2 separate regions of the Homo sapiens genome follow, and region 1 is linked to region 2. Evidence: fine-mapped expression QTL. A gene starts in region 2. The other region holds a variant in brackets. All regions are shown on one strand. Distances are from middle to middle.

The links. PIP is the estimated chance that this variant, and not a neighbour inherited with it, causes the effect. A credible set is the group of variants that fine-mapping cannot tell apart.
Region 1: its variant is the best candidate, but not a certain one, in a credible set for the expression of UCN2 in esophagus mucosa (GTEx, PIP 0.60).

What each region holds. Positions count from the first base shown.
Region 1 is chr3:48,490,012-48,495,382 of GRCh38, reverse strand. All of the region lies in intron 2 of SHISA5 (shisa family member 5), which reads left to right. Among named protein-coding and RNA genes, the nearest start is that of SHISA5, 11 kb to the left of the region's middle. The variant T/C (reference allele first, on the strand shown) is at 2,498.
Region 2 is chr3:48,561,236-48,566,606 of GRCh38, reverse strand. It overlaps UCN2 (urocortin 2), which reads left to right and starts at 2,826. Exons shown (of 2, transcript NM_033199.4): 1 at 2,826-2,904; 2 at 3,471-4,889. The coding sequence starts at 3,483. The coding sequence ends at 3,821. COL7A1 (collagen type VII alpha 1 chain) reads left to right here. Exons shown (of 119, transcript NM_000094.4): 113 at 44-97; 114 at 292-340; 115 at 939-971; 116 at 1,111-1,197; 117 at 1,406-1,498; 118 at 1,627-1,824; 119 at 2,185-2,534. The coding sequence ends at 2,201. It also overlaps a transcript of PFKFB4 not described here.

The sequences.
Region 1 (5,371 bases), 71 kb after region 2:
CTCCAGCCTGGGTGACAGAGCGAGACTCCCTCTCTATTAAAAAAAAAAAAAAAGCGTCGTAAAAGGAACATATTTTTTCTGGGTATGTATCTAGGAGTGGAATTACTAAGTTATTATGTGAATGTGTTCAGTTTAGGCAGATAACTTCCAAACAGCTTTCCAACATGTTATAAATGTGCCATTTGTACTCCCACCAGCCATATGTGAGGGTTCCAGTTTGCTCTACATCCTCTTCAAAACTTGGATTATAAATCTTTTTCAAAATATTGAGATATAGGCTAGGTGGAGTGGCTCACACCTGTAATCCCAGCACTTTGGGAGGCTGAGGTAGGAGGATCGCTTGAGCCCAGGAGTTGGAGGCTAGCCTGGGCAACATAGCAAGACTCAGTCTCTAAAAAGAAAAAAAAATAGATATATAATTACATACAGTAAAATGCACAGATCTTTCATGTTTCAGTTTGATGAGTTTTAACAGATGTATACATTTCATGTATACAACATGCTAGACCAGATATAAATCATTGTCATGGAAAAAAGTAGGAGGGTCCCCCAAAAATTAAAAATAGAGCTACCATGTGCATATGATCCAGCCATCCCATCACTGCGTATATATCCAAAGGATATGAAATCCATACCCCAAAGAGATACCTGCTCTCCCTTGTTCATTGCAGCATTATCACAATAGCCAAAGTATGCAATCAATCTACCTGTCCATCAGGATAAATGGATAAAGAAAATGTGGTATATGTACACAGCGAAATACTATTCAGCCTTAAAAAGAAGGAAATTGGCTGGGTGCAGTGGCTCACGCCTGTAATCCCAGCACTTTGGGAGGCCAAGGGGGGGTGGATCACGAGGTCAGGAGATCGAGACCATCCTGGCCAACATGGTGAAACCACGTTTCTACTAAAAATACAAAAATTAGCTGGTGGTGGTGCACGCCTGTAATCCCAGCTACTCTGGAGGCTGAGGCAGGAGAATCCCTTGAACTCGGGAGGCGGAGGTTGCAGTGAGCTGAGATCATGCCACTGCACTCTAGCCTGGCAACAGAGTGAAACTCCATCTCAAAAAAAAAAAAAAAAAGGAAATCCAGAAATCCTGTCATTTATGATGACATGGATGTACCTGGAGAACATTATGTTAAGTGAAATAAGCTAGGCGCAGAAAGACAAATACAGCACCATCTCACTTATATGTGGAGTGTCAAAGTCAAACTCATAGAAACAGAATAAAATGGTGGTAACCGGAGACTAGGAGGTGGCAGGATTAGGGAGATGTTGGTCAAAGGACACAAAATTTCACTTAGGAGGAGTAAGTTCAAGAGATCTATTGTACATCATAATGGTGACTATAGTTTATAATAATATGTTGTATACTTGAAAATTGCTAAGGAAGTAGATTTTGAGTGTTCTCACCACAAAAAAAGGTAAGTACGTGAAGTAATGCATATGCTAATTACCTCAATTTAGCCATTCAATATATACATATTTCAAAACATCATTTTTGTACGCTATAAATATATACAATTTTTGTCAGTTAAAAAAGAAATCGGATGGGTGCAGTGGCTGATGCCTGTAATCCCAGCACTTTGGGAGGCTGAGGCGGGTGGATCACATGAGGTCAGGAGTTCAAGACCAGTCTGGGCAACATGGTGAAACCCCATCTCTACTAAAAAATAGAAAAATTAGCCGGGTGTGGTGGCACACACCTGTAATCCCAGCTACTCAGGAGGCTGAGGCAGGGAGAATCGCTTGAACCCGGTGGGCAGAGGTTGCAGTGAGCCGAGATTGTGCCACTGCACTTCAGCCGGGATGACAGAGCCGCCTCTGTCTCAAAAAAAAAAAAAAAAAAAAAAAAAAGAATAGATCATGGCCATTTCTAAGGAATTTATTTATTTATTTAATTTATTAATTTATTCATTTATTTTCCAAGATAGGGTCTCACTCTGTCACCCAGGCTGTAGTGCAGTGGCACAGTCTCAGCTCACTGCAGCGGCACAGTCTCAGCTCACTGCAGCCTCTACCTCCTGGGCTCAAGCCATCCTCTGACCTCAGCCTACCGAGCAGCTGGGATTACAGGCATGCGCCATGGTGCATGGCTAATTTTTGTTTATTTTTGTAGAGAAGGGGTCTTACTATGTTGCCCAGGCTGGTCCTGACCTCCTGGGCTCAAGTGATCAGCCCACCTTGGCCTCCCAAAGTGCTAGGATTACAGGTGTAAGCCACTGCACCCAGCCGAAAGTTTAATTTTAGCAATTTTGGTGGTTGTGTTGTAATACCCCATTGTGCCGTTTTCAAGATTTCAGTACATTTTATGGCCCAGCATATCCTTAGTGAAACATGAGGAAAGTTTCATGTGTTTTAGTCCATTCAGACTGCTTTTAGGAAATACTGTAGATTGTGTGGCTTAAACAACAAACATTTCTCACAGTCCTAGAGGCAGGAGGTTTAAGATCAGGGTGCTGGCATGATCCTGGTGAGGGCCTTCTTCCTGGTTA[T/C]GTCCTCACGTGGCCTTTCCCTGTTTGTGGAGGCTGAAAACAACTCCATCTTGGATGCTAATCTGCCCATGTTGACTTCTGATTAACCCCAGTTCTGGGAATGCCTCTAATGCCTTTCACATACTTACCATAAATCCTGCCCTTAGACCAATTCCCTGTGGTTTATAAGCCCAGGATCTGAGGTTAAGAAGTCCCTATTAAATGTTTCTGAGAAACTGGATTTGTCAGCCTCTTTCTTCAGCTTCTCAGCTTCCTTGGGCGAAGGCTTGTACAGACCTGCTCACCTCCGAACATTGGTGCATGCATGCAGAGAGAAATCGAATTTCTCTTCCTCTTTTTATAAGGACACTAATCCCATCCTGGCAGCTTCACCCTCATGATCTCATCTAAACCTAATTACCTCTTTTTTTTCTTATGAGACGGAGTCTCGCTCTTTCACCCAGGCGGGACTGCAGTGGCCCGATCTCGGCTCACTGCAAGCTCCGCCTCCCGGGTTCACGCCATTCTCCTGCCTCAGCCTCTTGAGTAGCTGGGACTACAGGCGCCCGCCACCGCGCCCGGCTAATTTTTTGTATTTTTAGTAGAGACAGGGTTTCACCGTGTTTGCCAGGATGGTCTTGATCTCCTGACCTCGTGATCCGCCCGCCTCGGCCTCCCAAAGTGCTGGGATTACAGGCGTGAGCCACCGCGCCTGGCCTTTTTTTTTTTTTTTTTTTTTTTTTTTTTTTTTTTTTTGAGATGGAGTCTTGCTCTGTTCCCGGCTGGAGTGGAGTGGCACAATCTCAGCTCACTGCAACCTCCACACCCTGAGCAGTCTTAACTCATTCCAGCATCAACTACTCTTAACTCTAAAGTGCAAAGCCTTGTTCACATATTATCAAAATCAGATATGAATGAGACCATAGGTACATTTCATCCTGAGGCAAAATTTATCTCCAGTTGTGAAACCTGTGAAGCCAGAAATGCATTTGTGGGACAGGCAAAGGATAGCCACCCCTATTACAAAAGGGAGAGAAATCAGTAGGAAGTGTAGCCAGGGCAACATGGTGAGACCCCATCTCTACTAAAAAAATCCCCAGGCATGATGGTGCGCGTCTGTGGTCCCAACTATTAGGAGGCTGAGGTGGGAGAATTGCTTGAGCTTGGTGGGGGCAGAGGTTGCAGTGAGCTGAGATCGTGCCACTCTACTCCAGCCTGGGACAGAGTGAGACCCTTGTTTCAAACAAAACAAAACAAAAACAAACAAACGAAAACAGCAGGAAGTGATAGGTGCTGTCAACGAAAAGCCAAACTCTAAAATATTTGAAGAGATTTATTCTGAGCCGAATATGAGTGACCATCGCCCGTGAAACAGCCCTCAGGAGGTCTTGAGAACATGTGCCCAAGGTGGTCCGGGCACCGCTTGGTTTCATACATTTTAGAGAGGCATGAGACATCAATCAAATACATTAAAGAAATACATTGGTTAGGCCGGGCGCGGTGCCTCACACCTGTAATCCCAGCACTTTGGGAGGCCGAGGCGGGCGGATCACGAGGTCAGGAGATCGAGACCATCCTGGCTAACACGGTGAAACCCCGTCTCTACTAAAAATACAAAAAATTAGCTGGGCATGGTGACGGGCGCTTGTAGCCCCAGCTACTCGGGAGGCTGAGGCAGGAGAATGGCGTGAACCTGGGAGGCAGAGCTTGCAGTGAGCAGAGATCACGCCACTGCACTCCAGCCTGGGCGACAGAGCGAGACTCCATCTCAAAAAAAAAGAAGAAATACATTGGTTTGGTCCAGAAAGGTGGGACGACTCAAAGGGCGGGGGGTTGGGAGGGTGGGGAGCTTCTAGCCTATAAGTGAATTTAAACGTTTTCTGTTTGACAATTGGTTGAGTTTGTCTAAAGACAAAATTGATTGATAGAAAAGGAATGTTCAGATTAAGATAAAGATTGTGGAGCCCAAAGTTCTTCTGAAGTCTTCTAGTGGCTGCCCTTAGAGACAATAGATGACAAATGTTTCCTATTCAGATTTTAGTTACTCTCTTTAGGATTGGGAGGGTCTGGAAGGAAAAGATCTAGCTATGTTAATAGAGATTCTTTACAGATGCACATTTTCTCCCATAGAGAACAGCTTTGCAAGGTCATTTCAAAATATGGCAAAGAAACATGTTTTGGGGTAAAATGTTTTGATTTTTTTTCCTTGTCTCTTAATGTTATGCCAGAGTCAGGTTGGAAAGTAAATCATGATATATAGGGTTAAATAAAACCCATTTGATGAGAATTTATGATTTGTAGGGCATGACTCCCCAGGCCCCTTAGATAGGAATTTGGGCGAGATAAAAAAAATCAGAGTTTAGTTCTCAGTGCCAGGCAATTCTAAATTCTAGCAAGACAAACTCCAGTAGACTTTAAGCCTTGGGAATAATCCTCTTTGGCTGGACACTCTGCCCTCTGGACCCACTGTGATGGGGGCTGCACCCCCATGGCTCTGCTGGGTGGTGGTCCTGGCCTTCAAAACTGAGGTGGCCGGCCAGGTGCAGTGGCTCATACCTGTAATCCTACCACTTCGGGAAGCCGAGGTGGGCGGATCACCTGAGGTCAGGAGTTTGAGACCAGCCTGACCAACATAGAGAAACCCCATCTGTATTAATAATGCAAAAATAGCTGGGTATGGTGGCGCATGCCTGTAATCCCAGCTACTTGGGAGGCTGAGGCAGGAGAATCGCTTGAACCCAGGAGGTGGAGGTTGTAGTGAACCGAGATTGCGCCATTGCACTCCAGCCAGCCTGGGTGGCAAGAGCAAAACTCCGTCTCAGAAAAAAAGCAACAACAACAAAAAAAACGGAGGTGGCGGCAACCTGGTTCCGGCCTGTGCACTCTGGGCCTGTG
Region 2 (5,371 bases):
CTGAGGTCAGAGGTCACAGCCTGGTCCCATCTGTTGCACATAGGGGCGGCCAGGGCCTGCCGGTCCTCGAGGCGAGAAGGGAGAAGCTGCACTGACGGTGAGTGTGGGCCTGGATGGGCCTGGGAGGGCCTGGGTGGGCCTGGGTGGGCTGGGGCCCTACCTCCCTCACCCAGCACCCTGACCCCTGGGCCCTGGCTCCATGCAGTCTCACCATAGTCCCTGTATTATGTGCCCTATGTCCTTCCTGTGGGCCATGGGTTCTTTATGGTCCCTGTGGTCTTCTGCTCCCAGGAGGATGACATCCGGGGCTTTGTGCGCCAAGAGATGAGTCAGCACTGTGGTGAGTGGTGCCCAGCCCGCAGTCTCCCACTCCACCCCAGCACCCTAGGCAAGGGCAGGCAGGCCCCTAGAACTTACAGGGCAAGCAGTCAAGAAGATGGGGGGATGGATGGATACACAGAAGGACACATGTGCTGCAGGACTGACACATGACATGTGTCCCCAGTGGAGGGAGACACACAGGCAGATGAGGATTGCCATGCAGTGCTCTCAGATGTCCAGCTTGGCTGTGTGGGGAGTGGGATGATGGTGGGAGCAGAGCTGGTCCCCTTGGGCCTGACCTGGACCCGGTGGGAGGGGCATCAGAGTGAAGCTGTCTCTTCCCGTCTCTGTCTGCACCACCTGCCTGTTTCTGTGTCTGGCCTGCTTCTGTCTCTTGCCTTTTGTTGGCCTGTTCCCAACTTCCCTCTCCTCTGCCTTCTTCTCTTTTTCCATCTCTCTATCTACCTCCCACCCTCTCTCTTCCTCTCTCTCCTGTTACCCTCTCCTGCTATCTCTTTGTGTATCTCTACCCCTCTGCCTGTGTGTCTCTGTCTGTCTCTCCATCTTCCCATCCTTCTCTCTGTCATTGTCTCTCTATCCCTCTCTGCCCCCTCTAGCCTGCCAGGGCCAGTTCATCGCATCTGGATCACGTGAGTAGTTTTCTACTCCCAGAACTTTCTTCACCCCAGGCCCTGCCCTGCCTATCAACTGGGGTCCTCTCAGGGGGGTTGGCTGGGATGGCTGCCCATGGTGACTTCAGGGCCCTGAGGCCCCTGCTCTTGGCTCCAGGACCCCTCCCTAGTTATGCTGCAGACACTGCCGGCTCCCAGCTCCATGCTGTGCCTGTGCTCCGCGTCTCTCATGCAGAGGAGGAAGGTGAGGACAGCTGAACCCGTGGGGCAGCTATGGGTGGGGCCGAGACACGCACATGGGTGTCCATGAATGCAGGGCACACGCCAAGCACGTAGGGTCTGCATGCAGGGCACACGCATGGGCACTGTGTGCACACAGTGGAAATCAGTGCTGCCCACCTTGCCCCGGGGCCAGCAGCCACTGCTCCCAGCACACCCTGCCCTACCTGCAGAGCGGGTACCCCCTGAGGATGATGAGTACTCTGAATACTCCGAGTATTCTGTGGAGGAGTACCAGGACCCTGAAGCTCCTTGGGATAGTGATGGTGAGAATGGGGGGCTGCCAGCGGGGTCTGGGGAGGGGCAGGCAGGGCTGAGCCCTGCTGACCTCCCCCTGACCTTTCAACCCTCTCTGATTCCCACAAACCCTGCTGACTTGACCCCATTGGCCCAGACCCCTGTTCCCTGCCACTGGATGAGGGCTCCTGCACTGCCTACACCCTGCGCTGGTACCATCGGGCTGTGACAGGCAGCACAGAGGCCTGTCACCCTTTTGTCTATGGTGGCTGTGGAGGGAATGCCAACCGTTTTGGGACCCGTGAGGCCTGCGAGCGCCGCTGCCCACCCCGGGTGGTCCAGAGCCAGGGGACAGGTATGGGCTGAGCCCCCACCGTGGGGAACTGGGCACTGAGCCTGCCTGGATCGGGTTCTGGGGGAGGAGTCCTTGGGCCAGGGTTCCAGGTCAGGGTCCTGGAGGAGACGCTCCCTCGCAGTAGGGGACCTGGGGCAGACGCCCAGACCAAAGAGCTGAATATAGAGCCCCAGCCGTGGAGCCCCCAGTAGGGTCCCCTTCCATGTTCCCTCCTTTAAAGACCTAAGTATGGACCCCTCTGAGGTCAGAGCCCCCACTTCCTGTTGTAGCCTCCGCTCCCTCCCCTTGGCGGTGCCTCTGCCTGAGCGTCTCCGGGGAAGGTCAGATGGCTGACGACCGTTTCCAACCTGTCCTCACCAGGTACTGCCCAGGACTGAGGCCCAGATAATGAGCTGAGATTCAGCATCCCCTGGAGGAGTCGGGGTCTCAGCAGAACCCCACTGTCCCTCCCCTTGGTGCTAGAGGCTTGTGTGCACGTGAGCGTGCGTGTGCACGTCCGTTATTTCAGTGACTTGGTCCCGTGGGTCTAGCCTTCCCCCCTGTGGACAAACCCCCATTGTGGCTCCTGCCACCCTGGCAGATGACTCACTGTGGGGGGGTGGCTGTGGGCAGTGAGCGGATGTGACTGGCGTCTGACCCGCCCCTTGACCCAAGCCTGTGATGACATGGTGCTGATTCTGGGGGGCATTAAAGCTGCTGTTTTAAAAGGCTCCTGTTGTGACTGTTTGGGAAGATGGGGGGTTTCAAGGGGGAAGGTTTTCCTTGGGGGGTTGGTATTATTCTGCATGGGTACAGAGTCCCTCTGCCCAGTCCTGGTCACTGTCTTGTGATTCTCAGTCCCCAACTTGTCCCCGGAAAAGAGTAGATAGGGTGGGGGCTAAGGACACCCCCGGGAGGGATGAGTCATAGGTGGGGGGCTGCCTCATGCCAGGAAGCATGTACCAGCTCCCACCCCAGGGGGCTGAGGGAGATAAATGGGCCCTGAAGCGGGGTAGAGGGTCAGACCACAGGACAGTAGTGCCTGGCCCCAGCCCCAGGCAGCCACAGCAGGCTGCCTTACCCCAGAAGCAGCTGGTGGCGGTAGGACTGGGTTGGGTCGGGATGGGAAGGGTCTTGGAGGTTGAGTGGATGTGGGGTTTGGCTTTATGGAGGGCTTGGACCCAGGGGACTCTGGGATCTCTGGCTGCTTTTCTGCCTCTGAGATCCGATTCCTGCCCTTCTGTTTCCTGGATCAGCTGCAAGCTCTCCTGCTGAGAACCGCCTGCCCTCCTGTGGACTCTGTGTTTCTGTCTGAATCTTTCTTTCCATCATGCTGTCTGTCTCTGGGATGGTTTCTGTCTGTCTTTTTCTTCTAGTCTCCATTTTGCTCTGCCTCCATCTCCTTCATCTCCCTCTCTTGCTGTCCCTCTGTCTCTGGATTTCTTTGTTTCTTTTTTTCTGTCTTGCTTTCTGCCTCTTTGTCTCATTCTGGCTCTCCTCTTGTCTCCCCTTCTCTGTCTCTGGCCTGGCCTGGCCTCTCTAACCCCTTTCTCGGTGTCTTCCTCTCTCTCCATCCCCCGCTCTGTCACTCTGCCCTTGCCATCTGTCTCTGTCCATGGACCCCAGTTGACCAGAGCCCCTGCCCTGAGCCCATTTTCTCCTTGCAGCCTGACCTCACGATGACCAGGTGTGCTCTGCTGTTGCTGATGGTCCTGATGTTGGGCAGAGTCCTGGTTGTCCCAGTGACCCCTATCCCAACCTTCCAGCTCCGCCCTCAGAATTCTCCCCAGACCACTCCCCGACCTGCGGCCTCAGAGAGCCCCTCAGCTGCTCCCACATGGCCGTGGGCTGCCCAGAGCCACTGCAGCCCCACCCGCCACCCTGGCTCGCGCATTGTCCTATCGCTGGATGTCCCCATCGGCCTCTTGCAGATCTTACTGGAGCAAGCCCGGGCCAGGGCTGCCAGGGAGCAGGCCACCACCAACGCCCGCATCCTGGCCCGTGTCGGCCACTGCTGAGCCTGAGAGAGGGGGTCACAGTGATAGGGCCACCCTGGATGGGAAGACCTGGAGGGCAGCCACACAGCTGGACGGATGCTGCCACATCTGGGCATACAGTGTCTGGACGCTGCCACATCTGGGCATACAGTGTCTGGACACTGCCACATGGAGCCACTGTCATGCAGGTCATATCAGATCTGAGTGCCCCACAGAGTCACAGTGTGTCTGGACAGCCTGGACATTGGACATTGCTAAGTTGGGTCACTGCCACATGGAGTCTTGCCATGCCTGTGTGCCCCACAGACCTAATATATGTCCGGACAGCTTGGATGCTGCCACGTAAGGTCACTGCTGTGGCGAGTCTTGCTATGTCTGGGTGCCCCATAGTCACAGAACACCTGGACACCGCCACATGCAGTCATCATCATGTTACTTTCAGGAGCCTCAACACGAGAGCTCAACACTGCCTCCGACCAGTCCCTCTGAGGCCCACAGGTCTGTCATCCCATAGGCCACCACACAGAGAAATGCTGGCTGAGGGTCACTTGCTTGCTCTGTGCCCCATGAGGCAGCACCTGCCCCAGATGGACGGGGCTGTGAGGGGTGTCTCCAGGCACAAAGGCCCGAACACAGGAAGCCTGTGACCATGGCAGCCTTGTCTTATGGGCGCATATGTGCGTGTGTGGCTGAGTCTCTGACAGCTGTGAGTGTGTGTGAGCAGGGTAAGGGTACGTGAGGGGTCTGAGAGGAGTGGGTGCTTGTCCCCCAAACCTGCATGAAGCAAGAACAACTCCTGGCCAGGCCCTGTCCTCCCCACGTACCCCTGCATCCCCAGCCTCGACCCAGGGACATGCAGGGCTCACAGGAGACAGGGCTCAGGCTGCCGGAGCTCCAACCAAACTCTGTCCCACTTCACGCACGGACTGTCCTGGGCAAAGGTGTTCACCTTTCCGAGCCTCGGTTTCCTTATCTGTAAAGCAAAGCGACACCAGCAAGCCTGTGAGCATTGTGTATATAGCAGACATGGAGGTCCTGCAGCAGGAGGTGCTCAATAAACACAAAGCGACTGAAGGATGGGACCAGCAAGCCTGTGAGCATTGTGTATGTAGCAGACATGGAGGTCCTGCAGCAGGAGGTGCTCAATAAACACAAAGCGACTGAAGGATGGGATGTGCGAGAATCCCAGTGGTGTGCACCCAGGCCGCGACACATGGTGGGTGAGTCATACCTGGCTTCTCTGCCTTCCTCCCTAGCTCCCCGGTTAACTGACCTGGTCCCTTGGTTTGGAAGGACTAGGTTTTGCCTGATTTCACAGCCCAACTCCATTGCTGGGCCAGAGACAGAACTGACTTTCCAGGCAGTGTGGACGGGCTTGCCCGCAGAGGGGGCAGGCACTCTGGGCTGTGCAGACAACTCTAGGTGGACATGAAGGCAGACGCTGGGTGGCATGGGCAGCTCTGGCGGGAGAGGGAGACTGTACTGGCCACAGCGTGGCCGGCTGACTGGAGTGGGGGCACTGGCGCTGCCCTCACAGTTGTAAGCAGCCCTGTGGGGGCGGGCCTACAGTG